2 separate regions of the Homo sapiens genome follow, and region 2 is linked to region 1. Evidence: fine-mapped expression QTL. Tissue or cell type: whole blood. Region 1 holds a variant in brackets; the other region holds the start of a gene. All regions are shown on one strand. Distances are from middle to middle.

Evidence for each region. PIP is the estimated chance that this variant, and not a neighbour inherited with it, causes the effect.
Region 2: BTBD1 starts here. The variant in region 1 is fine-mapped to the expression of BTBD1 in whole blood (INTERVAL, PIP 0.99).

The regions. Positions count from the first base shown.
Region 1 is chr15:82,477,452-82,485,557 of GRCh38, reverse strand. It overlaps the pseudogene GOLGA2P10. Among named protein-coding and RNA genes, the nearest start is that of GOLGA6L9, 52 kb to the right of the region's middle. The variant TTG/G (reference allele first, on the strand shown) is at 3,672.
Region 2 is chr15:83,063,672-83,071,764 of GRCh38, reverse strand. BTBD1 (BTB domain containing 1) reads left to right here and starts at 4,513. Exons shown (of 8, transcript NM_025238.4): 1 at 4,513-5,014. The coding sequence starts at 4,614. MIR4515 (microRNA 4515) reads right to left here and starts at 4,430; the gene lies at 4,350-4,430. RefSeq lists silencers at 2,380-2,429, 4,306-4,785, 5,026-5,195 and enhancers at 2,334-2,628, 4,066-4,115, 4,126-4,245.

The DNA.
Region 1 (8,106 bases):
ATTTGATAAATGTCAGCTAGTTTAGGGTTAGGGAATTGAGTTGAATGGAGATAGTCACTGCCAAATGTAAAGCATGACTGGAGAGCCACAGTGATGAAGCCAGGGTCCCTTTCTCCAGATCCTTTGTAACAGTGTTATGTGATCTCTTCTAGAAGATTGTTCTGAAAGATAATGCCAACTCGGAACCTAGGAAACCATCCAGTGGGTTTCTGCAGCTTAGGTGGTTCAAATCCTCATCAGCACGTTTGTTTTCTCTGCCTCAGTTTGCTTACAGTGATGTTCTCAGTAGCTGTAATTGCTGTCTTTGAATACTTAAGCATTTTTTTTTTTAGCTCACAGGGGTATGTGTGCATTTTTCTTTTACCAAGTGTTAGAACTTTGACTCTGCTTTTGTGGGCTCTGGTTTAGCAACTTGGTTGTTTAGTTGTAAAATGATTAGTAGGGAAAACCGTGTGTGTGTGTGTGTGTGTGTGTGTGTGTGTGTGTATTTTAAGTTTCTTTTGTTCTCAGAGCACTTAGAATTTTATATGGAAATTCTATCAGTTTACTTGATTCTCCACCCCACATTTCTTAAACAGCAAAGTATGAAGGTAATGTGTCCCGTAACCAGCCTTCAGAATAATTACAGCTGCTGTGTCTCTGAACTTTCAAGAAGTTTGTGCATCAATTTTCAAAAAATTATGAAATCCTTGAAGATAGCTGTGTTCTACATTTGGAAAGATACAAAAACTGAACCTTCTAGCAGGCAGTTTTGCTTGCTGGTGCTTGCGATAGAGCCACACATTGGTCTCAGTGGATTTATGGAGAAAAATAGGTACGGAAAGTTATTTCTAAATAAGACCAAAAATCCTTTTCTTAAGCAGTGACAGGTAAAGAGGTTGTCTTGGCTAATATTGAATTGTGTTGCCCTTGATTGAGACAGTTTTATGGTGGGGATGGTAGTGGTGATAAACTTGTTTGAAATTTGTCCACCTATAGTAACCTTTGTGGTAGCTGTCACAGACAGCTTCATCCTCACAGGCCCTAAAATTACTATAAAACTAATAGATTGGAGGAGAAACAAAGGACCTGAATAATTAGATGCTTAGATAATTGTTCTGTGTTTTCATAACAAGTGAAAAAGAGCAGTGTTAGAAGTACTTAAACTTTCCATGTAAGGAGCACTGCCTGAATTTATATTGTGATTTTAGAGCATCATTCACTGTTTAAAAACAGGCATATTGTGGGTCATATTTTAAAGACAAACAGAAAGCTTATCTTTTCAAGATGGATCTAAAGCTTAACCTTATCAAAATTACAAAATGTGAAGGATATGATTGAAAAATATTAATGCATAGGTTTAAATATTGGTCATCATTTTAGATGTCTTTCAAAATAGGTTGTCTCTTAAATATTAAACTGAACAAACATTGAACTTGTTGTAGAGTTTGTGCTCAAGGTTAAGTTTCCTGGGGTGATGGATATTTGATAATATGGATAACAAAAAGTTCTTAAGAAATTTAGAAAATTTTTAGGCAAAACTAGAAAATAATACTGATAATTCTACCACTCAGAATGTACCACTATCAGAATTTTGTATCTTTCAGTCATCTGCTCATCTCTTTTCTCCTTTGCTTGTATGTGTTCCCTCTCCCTTAAAAAATCAGATTTTTTTTTTGTAATCTGCATTTTCACTCAATATTGTAGATCTGTGTCATAAGTTACTCCTCTACAGTGCCTTCAGTTATTGTGTGCTTTGTGTTGGATGACTGTACCATCTAGTCTTTCGTGTTTCCTGGTACTGACTACATAGGGGTGAGTGTGTGTGTGTGTGTGTGTGTGTGTGTGTGTGTGTGTATTTTTTTTCTACCTTAACTAATGCTTTGGACATCATCAACAGGTAGAGCTAAATCCTTGAAACCTTCCAAGTGGTGGCTTTCAGTTATTGCTGAATTGGTTTTTAGAGATGGAACAAATTATATTGTATGGAAACTTTTTTTTTTTTTTTTTTTTTGAGACAAAGTCTCAGCTTGTCACCCAGGCTGGAGGGCAATGGCATGATCTTGGCTCACTAAAACCTCCACCTCCCAGGTTCAAGTGATCCTCTTGCCTCAGCCTCCCGAGTAGTTGGGATTACAGGGGCCTGCCACCATGCCCGGCTAATGTTTGTGTTTTTACTAGAGATGGGGTTTCATCATGTTGGCCAGGCTTGTCTCGAACTCCTGACCTCAGGTGATCCACTCACCTTGGTCTCCCAAAGTACTGGGATTACAGGCATGAGCCACCATACCCAGCCTTTTTTTCTTCTAGGTACCAGCTTTTATTTATCAGATTGGTATAAATGTTAGAAAGCGTGCAATGAAATGGGCATTTTCACAGTCGTGGCAGAAAGTATAATTATCTTTGACTTTCTAGAAAGCAGTCTGGCATTCTAGAAACTTGCCTAACCTCTTCCCATTTAGACAAGATGAATTCTGACAGGGCCAGCCTTGTCCCTGTGATTCCGTATCTCCCAGAAAGAGAGGTCTAGTCTCAGGGAAAACCCAGATTTTCTTGGCTTAGCCCACCTGACAGCTAATCACTGGAAATGGGGCGGGCCGGTAGAGTCCTTTGGTCAGGTTTTGTGTCAAGAGAGGGATGTGGAAAGATGGGAGAGAGGTAGCAAAACTGGCCTCAATGGAACTATGTAAGTTAACATAGAATGGCAAAGGAATGTTTCTTCCAAGGAAGAAATTCTAGGGAAGGAATAAAGTAGAGGGGAAGGCAGCAGTTCTCAAAGTTTTGGGGTCAGGATTCCTTTACACTCTTAAAAGTATATTGAGGGCCCAAGGAGCTTTTGTGTATGTGGGTTATATCTATTGGTATTTATCACTAGAAATTAAATCAGAAATACTTAAAATATTCCTTAAAAGCTCACAAAATATTGTTATAAATGCTTTTATGATAAGAAAATTTCTAAACCCAAGGTAGTACAGTCTTACATCTTTTGCAAATTTCTTTGATGTTTGATATGTCATTTGTACCTGCATTCAATTTATTGTGTGATATTTGCTTGAAAAAATGTGAACAAAGGACAGTCTCATACAGATAGGCATTTCAGATCATTGTGGATATTTCTTTTTTCTTTCTTTCTTTTTTTTTTTTTTTTGAGATGGGGTCTTTCTCTGTCTCCCAGGCTGGAATGCAGTGCTATGATCACGGCTCACTGGAGCCTCATTCTCTGGGGACTCAGGTGATCCTCCCACCTCAGCCTCTAGAGTAGCTGGGACTACAGGTGTGTACTACCCCACCTTGCTAATTTTTTGTATTTTTTGTAGAGATAGGGTTTTGCCATAGGTATTCAAATAGAAAGTTTTGTTTTTGTTTTAGTATATAAAGAAATATAACTTTCCATGTTGGAAAAATTTTTAAAACCTTTTTTTAATTTTAAAACTCATAAGCAACCATTGTTGAGAAAATTGGTAAAGTACAGAAAAGATAAAAGAAAAAAATTAAAGTCTCCCATAATTTCTCTATCTAATATAACCACTATTGACTGTTGACATGATGGTCATTTTCTACCAGTATATATTTTTTCTTTGCTATTAAAATACATAACCCTTACACATATGCTTAATAGTTGAGGTCATATTCTCTATAGTTTTTTATATATATATATATATATATTTTTTTTTTTTTTTTTTTTTTTTTTT[TTG/G]AGACAGAGTCTTGCTCTGTCACCCAGGCTGGAGTGCAGTGCCGTGGTCTCGGCTCACTGCAAGCTCCACCTCCTGGGTTCCCACCATTCTCCTGCCTCAGCCTCCCCAGTAGCTGGGACTACAGGCGCCCGCCACCATTCCCGGCTAATTTTTTGTATTTTTTAGTAGAGATGGGGTTCCACCGTGTTAGCCAGGATGGTCTCGATCTCCTGACCTCATGGTCTGCCCACCTTGGCCTCCCAAAGTGCTGGGATTACAGGCGTGAGCCACTGTGCCTGGCCCTTTTATATTCTTTTAAAAAGTATTTACTGTATTTTCCTGTGATGTCATAGTCTTTATAGAAAAATAATCATTATTTTCAGTTGACATGATTGTTTACCTAAAAATATCCAAAGGAACCAACTGAGAAAAAACAATTTTTAAGATTACTGGTTAAAAGTTCTTTTATATAAAAATCAATAGCCTTCCCCAATGTTAGCTATAATCACATAGAAGATATAGTGATGAAGTATTTTTTCAGGTATTTCAGCAAAAATTAAATACCTAGGAATAAACTTAGATGTGCAGGACTTTTATCAAGGACAGGACAAAATTTTGCTGAGTGGAATGAAAGATTTGCATTCTATGTTCCTGGATGAGCAGATTTCATGTTATAAATATGTTAGTTATCACCATGTCTTCATATTAATTTGTAAATGTAATTTCTGCTGGGCACAGTGGCTCATACCTGTAATCCAAACAGTTTGGGAAGCTGAGGCGGGTAGATGACAATTAGCTGGGTGTCTGTGGCACACACTTGTATTTCCAACTACTTCTGAGGCTGAGGTGGGAGGAGCACTTGAGCCTGGGAGGCAGAGGTTGCAGTGAGCCGAGATCATGCCTCTGAACTCCAGCCTAGGTGACAGAGTGAGACCCTGTCTCAAAAAAAAAAAAAAAAAAAAAAAAAAAACTAGAAAAGTGTGTGTGTATATATATATATTTCATATTTTATAAATATTTATATATATAAATTGTATATATACATTTTATATTTTATATATAGTGTGTGTGTATTATATATATACACACACACACACAAATTTCAGTACAAATTCTGGCAGATTTATTTTTGACACTTGACAAAACGACTCTAAAATTTGTTTAGAAGAATAAGTAATAAAAATTAATAAAGTATAGACTCTTTCAACCAGATAGTAAATAAAATATTGTGGACTATCCCTGGGCCAGACAGATAAAGGCAATGGAAGTTTAGAACCAGAGTCATGCAAACGAGAATTTAGTATAAGGAAAAGGTGGTATTTTAACTTAATACTGAAAAGATAGATTATTCTGTAAATGGTTTTAGGAGAACTATTTGAGGAAGTCTGAGTCTTAACTCCAATTTTTGTCAAAATAAGTTAGTTGGTTTAAACACATCTATTCTTAAAAATTAGAACAGAAGAATATTGGTTTGAAGATATTTTAAGAGTTAAGGCTGAGGCTGGGCACAGTGGTTCACGCCTGTAATCCCAGCACTTTGCGAGGCCAAGGTGGGAGGATTGCTTGAGCCCAGGAGTTTGAGATCAGCCTGGGCAACATAGCAAGACTCTTTCTCTCTCTCTCTCTCTCGATATAGATATACATATAAATATACATATACAAATAGAAAAAAAAAAGAGTTAAGTTTTATATGGAGAGCCATGAAGATAAGAGGTAAAAATTAAAGGCTTGATGGACACATGTTTACATCTCCATCAAGGGGGTTGATGGGAAAGAATGATAGACATAGCTCCATTACTGCTACCTCCTTTTAGGAAGTTGCTTCTGAACATCTAAAGATATCAGTTTTATAATAGAAATGAGTTATTTTTCAGTGTCTAAAACACCACATGAGATACATACATACATGCATACATACATAAATATGTTCATAAAGTTAAATGAAATAGGATATAAAATTGGGCCTAGTGTTTAAAAGGTAAATATATTTACATGAAGGAGAAAACAACTCACCTCCCACTCTTAGAGCCTCTGCCAGTTTATCATAGCCTAGTTTCTTGAGAGAATAAGCTACATGTCTTCACCTTTTTTCACTGAGCTCATTATACTCTGGATTCTGCCTTCATCGTTGCACTAAAATTTATCTCCTAGTTGTCAAATCCAGTGGCTCCCCTCTTAGTCCCCAAATTGACCCCTCTGCAGTATTTTGATACTGTTGATTGTTCCTTTGTTGAAACATTCCTCCATTCTTAATGTCCACCAATAAAGAGTTGGTTAAATAAAAATTATAGTGTACCGTTTTATAATATTCTGTTGTTCTGTTGTGGACCAAAAAATGCAGCCAGTCTTTCCATAAGAGCACGTGCAAACTTCTAAGATATATTAAGTAAAAAAGTAAGGCATAAAATATTGTGTATAATCTGACCCCTTTAGTACACAGTGTAAAAACATCTGTGTCTGTGCTTCTTTATACTTACTTTTTTCTCCCCTGGTGAATACAGGAAACTGTGAATAGTACAACACAATTAAAAAAAAAAAAAACTGTGTGTCTGCTGCACCAGGACCTGTGATAATTGGGTATAAAAGACAAAAAAGACATGTCCCTGTCCTCTGGGAAGGGACATGATAATCAAATGAGACTTCTGTCGGATTCTTTTCTCCTGTTTTGATCTTATCACCCTTTCTTGGTCTCCTCCGATCTCTTCTTCCTTGTCCTACTTCTTCTCTTCTCATTCTGTGCTTTCTCTGAGTAATCTTTGACTCCCATTACTTAAGTCATGACCTGTGTTCCAGGGACTCCTAAATTTGTATTCATCTCCAGAGTTTCAAACCCATATATCTGTCTGTATATCATATATTTAGGGAATCTCACTTGGAGTGACATGGGTGTTCAAAATGATGATATTTAAATTTTCACGTATCCATCTCCTAGCACTCTATCTAGTCACATATGCCTAAACCTGGGAACTGTCTTAATATTCTTTTATATACACCTGTTCTGACCTCCCCCCCAAACTAGTAAATTTCTAAGACCTGTCCTTCTGAATGTCTCTTACAATTTTCCCTGTGATCTCAGTTTCTTCCTCCCATCCCTCAAATGCTTTGTGTGTGTGTGTGTGGTGGGGGAAGAGAGTAAAATTGAAATTTGTGGAAAACGTACTAGCCTGTCTGTCTGTCTTTCGAGGTGAAGTCTCCCTCTTGTCCCCCTGGCTGGAGTGCAATGGCACAATCTTGGCTTACTGCAACTTCCATCTCCTGGGTTCAAGCAATTCTCCTGCCTCAGCCTCCTGAGTAGCTGGGATTACAGGCACCTGCCACCATGCCCAGCTAATTTTTGTGTTTTTAGTAGAGATGGGGTTTCATCATGTTGGCCAGGCTGGTCTCGAACTCCTGACCTCAGGTGATCCACCCGCCTTGGCCTCCCAAATTGCTGGGATTACAGGTGTGAGCCACCATGCCTGGCCACTACCCTGTCTTGTTGCTTGGTATGACTCCACTACCCTGCTGCCTCTCTCCCCGTACAGCAGCATAATTTAGGAATCAGAGAGACTGAGGAGGATATATATTATTTAGGTGCACCGGCCCAGTCAGATTAACATCTAAAGGACTGAGCCCTGAACAAAGAGTCAGGTTACCTTTTAAGCATTTTGTGTCGGTCATTATGCCGACAAGGTGTCCGCACTAAGTTCAGTATCAGTATGGTGACCTCCTGGGAACAGGTCATCGGCTTGCCTAAGGATGGGAGAACTGGCTCAGGTCAGAAAGGGAGCAGGTCAGAATTCCTGCACCAATCGGTAGTGGGACTGTGCCTGGGCAATATAGCAAGATCTTGGTTCTTAAAATTCAAAATAAAGAACAGCTCATTCCCCTCTGGGGAGGGGCTGGCTCAAGGTTACACAGTGAGTGTGGGGGCAGAGGCGGGCCCACTGTACCTCCCTTGTTGGGTTGTCTGAGGACCCCTCTGGCCACCCCCCACAGGAGATGGAGGAGGACATCTGGACAGTGAGCAGGAGGCGCTTCGGCCCATGCCGAACATCCCAGGGGACCTGGAGAGCCGGGAGGCCATGGTGAGCCTGACTTTCCCTGCCCCTACTTTGCCACCTTCCTCTGTGGTCCCTCCGAAACCCCCTTATGTTCTTGGTTTCCCCGCCTTCTGACTTCTGTGGACTTTCTCTGCTTCTGGGAGCCAGTGGTCAGACACCATTTCACCTGTGACCAACAGGTGCACTCTGTGAGGCCCGAAAGGAAGGGGCTATGCTCCATCTGCCTGCCCCAGTTGTTATGTGTATACCCCTACAAGAATACTCACCTCTTGTCTTCAGGTGGCATTTTTCAACTCCGCTGGAGCCAATGCCCAGGAGGAACAAAGGGTGTGCTGCCAGCCCCTGGCTCACCCAGTGGCCTCGTCCCAGAAAAAGCCAGAGGTAGCGGCCCCAGCCCCAGAGAGTGGGGG
Region 2 (8,093 bases), 590 kb before region 1:
GCTGGTCTTAAATGGCTGACCTCATGATCCACTTGCCTCAGCCTCCCAAAGTGCTGGGATTACAGGTATGAGCCACTGTGCCCGGCCATCTTTTATTCTTTTTTAAAAAATTCATTTATTTATATATTTTTTGAGATGGAGTTTCATTCTTGTTGCCCAGGCTGGAGTGTAATGGCACAGTCTCAGCTCACTACAACCTCCACCTCCCGGGGTCATGCAATTCTCCTGCCTCAGCCTCCCAAGTAGCTGAGATTATAGGCGCCCCCCACCACGCCTGGCTAATTTTTTTGTATTTTTAGTAGACATGGGGTTTCACCATGTTGGCTAGGCTGGTCTCAAACTCCTAACCTCAGGTGATCTGCCCACCTCGGTCTCCCAAAGTGCTGCAATTACAGGCATGAGCCACTGGGCCTGGCCAGCATCTGTTATTCTTTAATATTGACAAAAACTCCCTTGACCAAACTTTTTATTCAGGCTCCTTAGGACTTTTTTCTCAACTAGGCCTCTACCTTGGCCCATATCCTGTCTTTGGCCTGCCCAACCCAGTCTTAGAAAGAATCTCCCCACCCTTAACGCATCATCTTAGTAATTTTCCACCCATTGACCCCCCTTCACTTTGTTCATTGGCTATAAATGCCCAGCTGTTGATGTTGTTTTCAGAACTGTGCCTGATCTCTCTCTCCTGTTGCAATGCTTCCACTGCAATCATCTTGAATAAAATCTTTCTTACCATTTTAACTAGTGTCAGAATAATTTTTTTCTTTCTTCTTTTTTTTTTTTTGAGATGGAGTCTTGCTCTGTTGCCCAGGCTGGAGTGCAGCGGCACGATCTTGGCTCCCTGCAACCTCTGCCTCCCAGGTTCAAACGATTCTCCTGCCTCAGCCTCCCAAGTAGCTGGGATTACAGGCGTATGTCACCACACCCGGTTAATTTTTGTATTTTTAGTAGACATGGGGTTTCACCATGTTAGCCAGGCTGGTCTCAAACCCTAACCTCAGGTGATCTGCCTGCCTTGTCCTTCCAAAGTGCTGGGATTACAGGCGTGCGCCACTGCAACAGCCCAGAATAATTTTTTTCTTTAACAATGCCTTCAAACAGTTGTTTACACACACACACACACACACACACACACACACACACTCCAGCTTGTATAGTTGTTTTTGGTGGGAGGGTTAGACAAGTTGGTACATTATGGCTGAAACTGGAAGTCTACTTACTTCTATAACAAACATGTATTATTTTAAACATTTCCTTTAAAACAATAATAACATGTTTAACGAGCTCATCTGGAACCAGTCTTCCCTGAAGGTTATTATTTTGAAAGTTTTAATGTCCTGTATAGATAATTGAATTGTCCAGGTTTTCTAGACGAGTACATTCCTTTGATATTTTCAAAGCCACTAATAGAATTACTCATATTTTTAAACTCCACAATTATGTTTATATATCCTTTCTTATGTCCAATTCTATGTTTTTTAATCTCTTTCCTTTTAAACTAGCTAGTATAGTATACTATAGAGTGTGATCTATGAAAGGCCTGCATTAGAATACCTGGGATGACACTTAAAAGTAGTAAGTGAATTAATTTTCTGAATCATCAATGGATACTGAAATCAGTAGGTGAAAGCTTTTTGGGGAAACAGACTGGTCAAACAGTCTCAGAGCATCACCCTCATGGATTACTTATTACATAAGAATCATACACCTTCATAATGGAGGGATCTGACAGTCACAGCCTCACCAGGTCATCAAGCTTAGCATCACCAACATACGCTTTCTGAAGTGAGGCAATGAAGTACTTAACATCACCAGCATATTCTTGCCTAAAATGTTTAACCTGGAATCTAACCATGAATCATACAGAATCCACCAGACAAATCCAGATTGTGGAGCATTATACTCCACAATTCCCCGGACCTTCAAAGAAGTCAACACAGTCAATAATATGTGAACATTGATTTGATCCTGGATTGGAAAAAAAGTCATCTGTGAAAGATATTTTTGGCCAGGCACAGTGGCTCATGCCTGTAATCCCAGCACTTTGGGAGGCCAAGGTGGGCAGATCATAAGGTCAGTAGATTGAGACCATCCTGGCTAACACGGTGAAACCCCGTCTCTACTAATGACAGGTGAAGCCAACTGGACTTCTGGGTAGGGTGAGGACTTGAAGAACTTTTCTGTCTTACAAGTGGTTTGTAAAATGTGCCAGTCAGTGCTCTGTAAAAACACACCAATCAGCACTCTGTGGCTAGCTAGAGGTTTGTAAAATGGACCAATCAGCACTCTGTAAAGTGGACCAATCAGCACTCTGTAAAATGGACCAATCAGCATTCCGTAAAATGGACCAATCAGCACCCTGTAAAATAGACCAATCAGCACTCTGTAAAGTGCACCAATCAGCATTCTGTAAAATGGACCAATCAGCAGGACATGGGCGGGGACAAATAAGGAAGTAAAAGCTGACTCCACCCCCCCCACCCCCGCCGGCCCCTCCCCTCCTGCCCCCACGCCCAGAGACTGCAACCACCCGTTGGGGTTCCTTTCCATGACATAAGGGCTTTGTTCTTTTGCTCTTCAGAAGAAGTCTTTGGGTCCCTGCCATCTTAAGAGCTATAAAACTCATCAGGAAGGTCCACAGCTCCATTCTTGAAGTCAGCAAGACCACGAACCCACCAGAAGGAACGAACTCTGGACACACTAAAAATACAAAAAAAAAAAAAAATCAGCAGGCTTGGTGGCAGGTGCCTGTAGTCCCAGCTACTCGGGAGGCTGAGACAGGAGAATGGCGTGAACGTGGGAGGCAGAGCTTGCAGTGAGCGGAGATCATGCCACTGCCCTCCAGCCTGGGCAACAGAGCAAGACTCCGTCTCAAAAAAAAATTTTTTTAGAGACAAGTGGAGAAACAAATATTAACTGTACATTAAATATTATACATAGGACCAGGCCTGGTGGCTCATGCCTGTAATCCCAGCACTTTGGGAGGCCGAGGCGGGTAGATCACGAGGTCAGGACTTGGAGAGGAGCCTGGCCAATATGGTGAAACCCCGTCTCTACTAAAAATACAAATAATTAGCTGGATGTGGTGACACGCACCTGTAACCCCAGCTACTCGGGAGGCTGAGGAGGAGAATCGCTTGAGCCCGGAAGGCAGACTTCATGCCATTGCACTCCAGCTTTGGCAACAGAGCGAGACTCCGTCTCAAAAAAAAAAAAATCATATATAGATGATTTGATGATATGGTTAATTTTGTTAGGTGTGATAATGGTATCATTAGTAGCATGATGTCCCTTTGTCTTTAGGAATTGCCGGCTGGCAATGGGGAAGGGGTTGTGCATCCACTATTTCAGCCCCTACTACTTTAAGTCTCTTCCCAAGCACGTTCCTCTCCCAAAGAAGTTACCATTCTAAATGCCTAACAGCTGGAAGTCCCCTCTGGTGGTTTCACAAGTGGAGTGATTTTACAGGAGAAACCCAGGTTTGGGGTTTACTATTTACTTGACGGCATTTGTAATCTGTAAGGCTCTTCCTGCAAAGAACAGGTGTTTCCAACTATACGTGCCTGGTCAAGGACTATTTCTTGGGTTTTCTACGTTCTGCTTTTGACAGCTGACTTAACTCAGGGCCTGCCTCACTGAAGGGAGAAAAAGGAAGGCCTCGGTCCCCCAATCATGATGACCGGGTTGTAAATACTGCCTGGGAAGGGATAATACAGCCTTTTCCATTGTGTGTGTGTTTTAGTTTTTAATTTTTTAAATTTCAAGCTTAGGCAGTGGTTCAGTGCAAGGACTGAAAAGCGCTACAAGAGAAGGTGGGCAAGCACGAGGGGTTTCAAATACAGGGGTGGAAGCAGTAGAAGGAAATGTCTCTTAGGCCCAGAGGACGGAACCAAAGGGTCAATTAGAAGGGAAAGGGACCTGCGGACCTGGGGAGAGGTCACTGGGGTTCTAAGCCTTCCACCTCTGCTTCCGGAATTTCCACGGGTTTCGCGGCCTTCTGGAGCGGCGACTTGGCCACGCTTGGGGTACAGGGTTGTGGGAAGTCATGTCATCCCCTCCCTCACGTGTTCCCTTGGCCATACTTTCCTGCCCCTCCACTTCCAGGCAAAACACTCCTCGGGACAGGCCTTGGGACATGTCCCAGATACACAATGGGGGCGCTGGACTTGGTGATAAGGGGCCTGCAGGAAGAAAAAGGCAGCCGTGAGAGCCGCCTGCAGATCCACGATGCATCTTAAAATTACAAATTCTCAGGCCCTACCCCAGACCTACTGAGTCAGAATACCCAGGGCACTGAGCCAGGGGGTGGGTGCCCGTAGGCCCGGCAGCACCCAGCCTGCAGAAGCTCCACCTCCGGGAGCGCTGAGCTAGGACCAGCTCCCCACGCCCCTGCCCTGGGGCTGCCGGGAGTCCAGTCCTGTTACACCTCCCGCGGCCGCGCACAGCGGCAACCCGGGCGTGCGGGGGCGCGCGCGGTCAGGGAGGGGCCTGCGGAGGCGCGAGGCCCCCGGAAGCGCCTTTCCCGGAAGGCAGGGAGGCAGCGCCGGCCTCCGGAGGCGGCCTGGGCGATGGCGGCGGAGTTTTGTCCATAACGTGGGCAACCGCGCAGCTGGAGGATGGCCTCACTCGGGCCTGCCGCAGCTGGGGAGCAGGCGTCGGGGGCTGAGGCGGAGCCGGGCCCCGCGGGGCCGCCGCCGCCGCCCTCACCGTCCTCTCTGGGGCCCCTGCTCCCCCTGCAGCGGGAACCTCTCTACAACTGGCAGGCGACCAAGGCGTCGCTGAAGGAGCGCTTCGCCTTCCTCTTCAACTCGGAGCTGCTGAGCGATGTGCGCTTCGTACTGGGCAAGGGTCGCGGCGCCGCCGCCGCTGGGGGCCCGCAGCGCATCCCCGCCCACCGCTTCGTGCTGGCGGCCGGCAGCGCCGTCTTTGACGCCATGTTCAACGGCGGCATGGCCACCACGTCGGCCGAGATCGAGCTGCCGGACGTGGAGCCCGCAGCCTTCCTGGCGCTGCTGAGGTGAGCGGCAGCGCGGGCCGGGCCGGGCCGGGCCGGGCCGGGCCGGGCCGGGCTGGGAGATCCCCGGGGCCCGGCCTACCCGGACTCCCGGATGACCTTGGGCTGGGCTCTTCTGACCCGCCCGGGGCCTCAGTTTCCTCCCGAGCCGTTGATGCTCCGGAGGGTCGAAATCGAAATCTGTGAACCAGGACGGCTCAGTCGCCAACTAAACGTTAGTGTCTTCATTAGGCAAGCGTGCGTTTTACCATTGAAAGGCGTTTCGCATTCCAATTATGGATTGTCGCTCAGACTTCAGAATTAGACAAGTGGCAAGGATAGAGGGGCAGATCAGGTTGTCCTGATTGCCCATTTGCGAAGTTTTATGTTTTTGTTTGGGGGAAGAGAGTAGTTGAAAAATCTTGCAGGACTGATGTTTTGGGGTTATTGTCACCCCCTTCCCCCCGCTTTTTTTGAGACAAGGTCTTGCTCTGTTGCCCAGGCTGGAATGCTGTAGCGCGATCATGGCTCACTGCAGCCTCGACCTCTCCGGGCTCAGGTGATGCTCCGACCTCAGCCTCCCGAGTATTTGGGACTACAGGCACGCGCCACCACGCCCGGCTAATTTTTTTTATTTTTATTTTTGGTAGAGAGAGGGTTTCACTATGTTGCCCAGGCTGGTCTCGGACTCCTGGGGTCAAGCGATCCGTCCACCTCGGCCTCCCAAAGTGCTGGGATTACAGGCGTGAACCACCGCGCCTGGCCACTTTTTTGTTTTTGTTTTTGTTTTTCATTAACGTATTAGTTGTCAAGACCCAGGAAAGTAAATACGAAAACAGACAAGTGAGGCTTTACCTGCTTTGTGTTTCTACACACAAGGTCACATTTGCTTATAAATGAATCCCTCCCTTGATGTTAGAATTTGCTTGTTGGTTATTTGAGGATAGTAGATTGACATCTAATGAAAAGGTGATTGTTTGGCATTACTAGCTTTTAATCACAGCCATCCTGTTAGGGAGGCGTAAGAATTGTTTACCCCAATTTCACAAATGGGACTGAGGCCCAGAAGAGTCAAGTATCTTGCCCAAGGTAACAAACAGCTAACTCACACTGAAGACCATGTCTGTTTCATTATACTAAGATGGTTTTAAATAGCTGCCTGAGTAGAACGTGTTGTTATTAAAATGGCAGAGTCTTGGGTAGTACTGAAGCAAAAACAGGCAGGTCAGTGGGACAGAATTAGATACAAAGGTTCACAGTTGAATCAGAAAGATGAACAAGAAAATGAATGTAAAGTTCACACAACTAGAAACAAATAATAAGATTCCATTGACGAATGGATAAAGGACAGGATAGATAACTTAGAGAAAGAAAAAATACAACTAATTAACGAATGTTTTACCTGGCTGGTAATTAGGAAGTGCAAATTAAAAGACAGTGGTATTTTTTCCTTCCATTAATCCCACCAAAAAATTTAAAGGTAACATCTGAACAGCATTTTCTGACAAAGATGGTGGTAAAAACCCTTTTGGAAAACAGTTTGGTGCTATAGATTTTCTTTCCACACGTAAGAAGCATTCAAGTATTGCAAATTGCATACAAAAATATTTACAGCTTTATTTATAGTAGTGAGGAAGTAGTCAGCTGTAGGGAATGGTTAAACAGTGGTAGGTTCACTTGATGAGATATAATGCAGTCACTAAATATGACGGATAGCACTTGAAACTGCACCATGGTTACAACGTGAAAAGACATGGAACAAACATATACCTAGAGACCGGGATAAAAGGAAACATACCAAAATGCTAAGCAAAGTCACCTGGAGTAGTGAGATGAAAGTACCTTTTTTTCTTCTTTATTCTTTGTTTCTGATATTTTCTGTAATTTAGTTCAGTTACATTTATAAAGGGGGGGGACCTCAAAAGCTAAAATCCAGGTCATTTTAGTTTAAAGTTCACCAGGAGGATTGGGTATAGTTCATTTGGATTTTCTAGACTAGAAGTAGTTTTCAAAATGATCTGTGGGCCGTCTGCATTATAATCTTCTGGGGTGCTTATGAAATGTGTAGATCTCATCCTCATTATATACCGTAATATTTGGAGGTGAGACCTTGGTAGCATTTTTAACACTCTCCCTAAGTGATACTTATACAAACTAAATTTAAGAACCACAAATCTAAAACTATTTTGGGGCAATTTTTTACTTTGAAAAAATATTGAGATTACTAGGATAAGAATGTAGAGGAAAAATACATATTTTAATATTTTCACCGAAGCTGCTAATTAGTGCTTTCCCATCAATAGAAAGTAAGTTAATTTTAGAGTGTTTGAAATGTAGGACAGTGCAATTTTTTTTTTCACATTGTAAAACATTTTTTACATTTTTAAACTTTTTTTTCATTTTTACATTTTCAGTGTGTTTTATTTTCCTAGCATTGTATTTATCCTTCAGGTTCTGGTCATTGTTCTATTTTGAAATTGATATCTGGACTGATTTCTAAATTTAATTTTGGCTGGCTGTGTAACGTAGATGTTGTTGTTAGCTAATACGTGACAAAAAGATGCCTGATAGTACTTGCTAAGTTGGAAGAGCAGGTTAGTTTGGGCATACTTGTAAACATCCTGAATTAGTTAACATTACTTACAGGCTCATGAACTTAAGTTTGAAGCCCTTAAAGAAACTGTGCACTTTGAACTGCCTGACCTTTAAATGATGTTCTTCAGTTGTTTGACAAATACTATATGCCTCCCTTTTGGGGCGCTTGTGAAACAGCGAATGGCTGTTGTAGGTGTTTGGGACACAGCAATAAACAAGAAAAAGTCCTTGCCCTCATGAAGCACATAATCTAGTAAAGGGAAACTAAAGATACAATGTCAAGTACTGATGAATGTTTTGAAGAAAAATAATCAAGTTATGAGAGAAGGAACATTCTCAGCAAGGGAACGCATTGTTTTCGGCACTAAGTATCTCCTGTTGGAGGAACACAAGAGTGAACCAGTGTGCCTTAAGCACAGTAGAGGGAAGTGGTAGAAAATGAGGTCAAAAAGATAGGCCAGACAGGATGGTGCAGGGCTTTAGAGACTGAGCGAAGACTTTTTCAGCT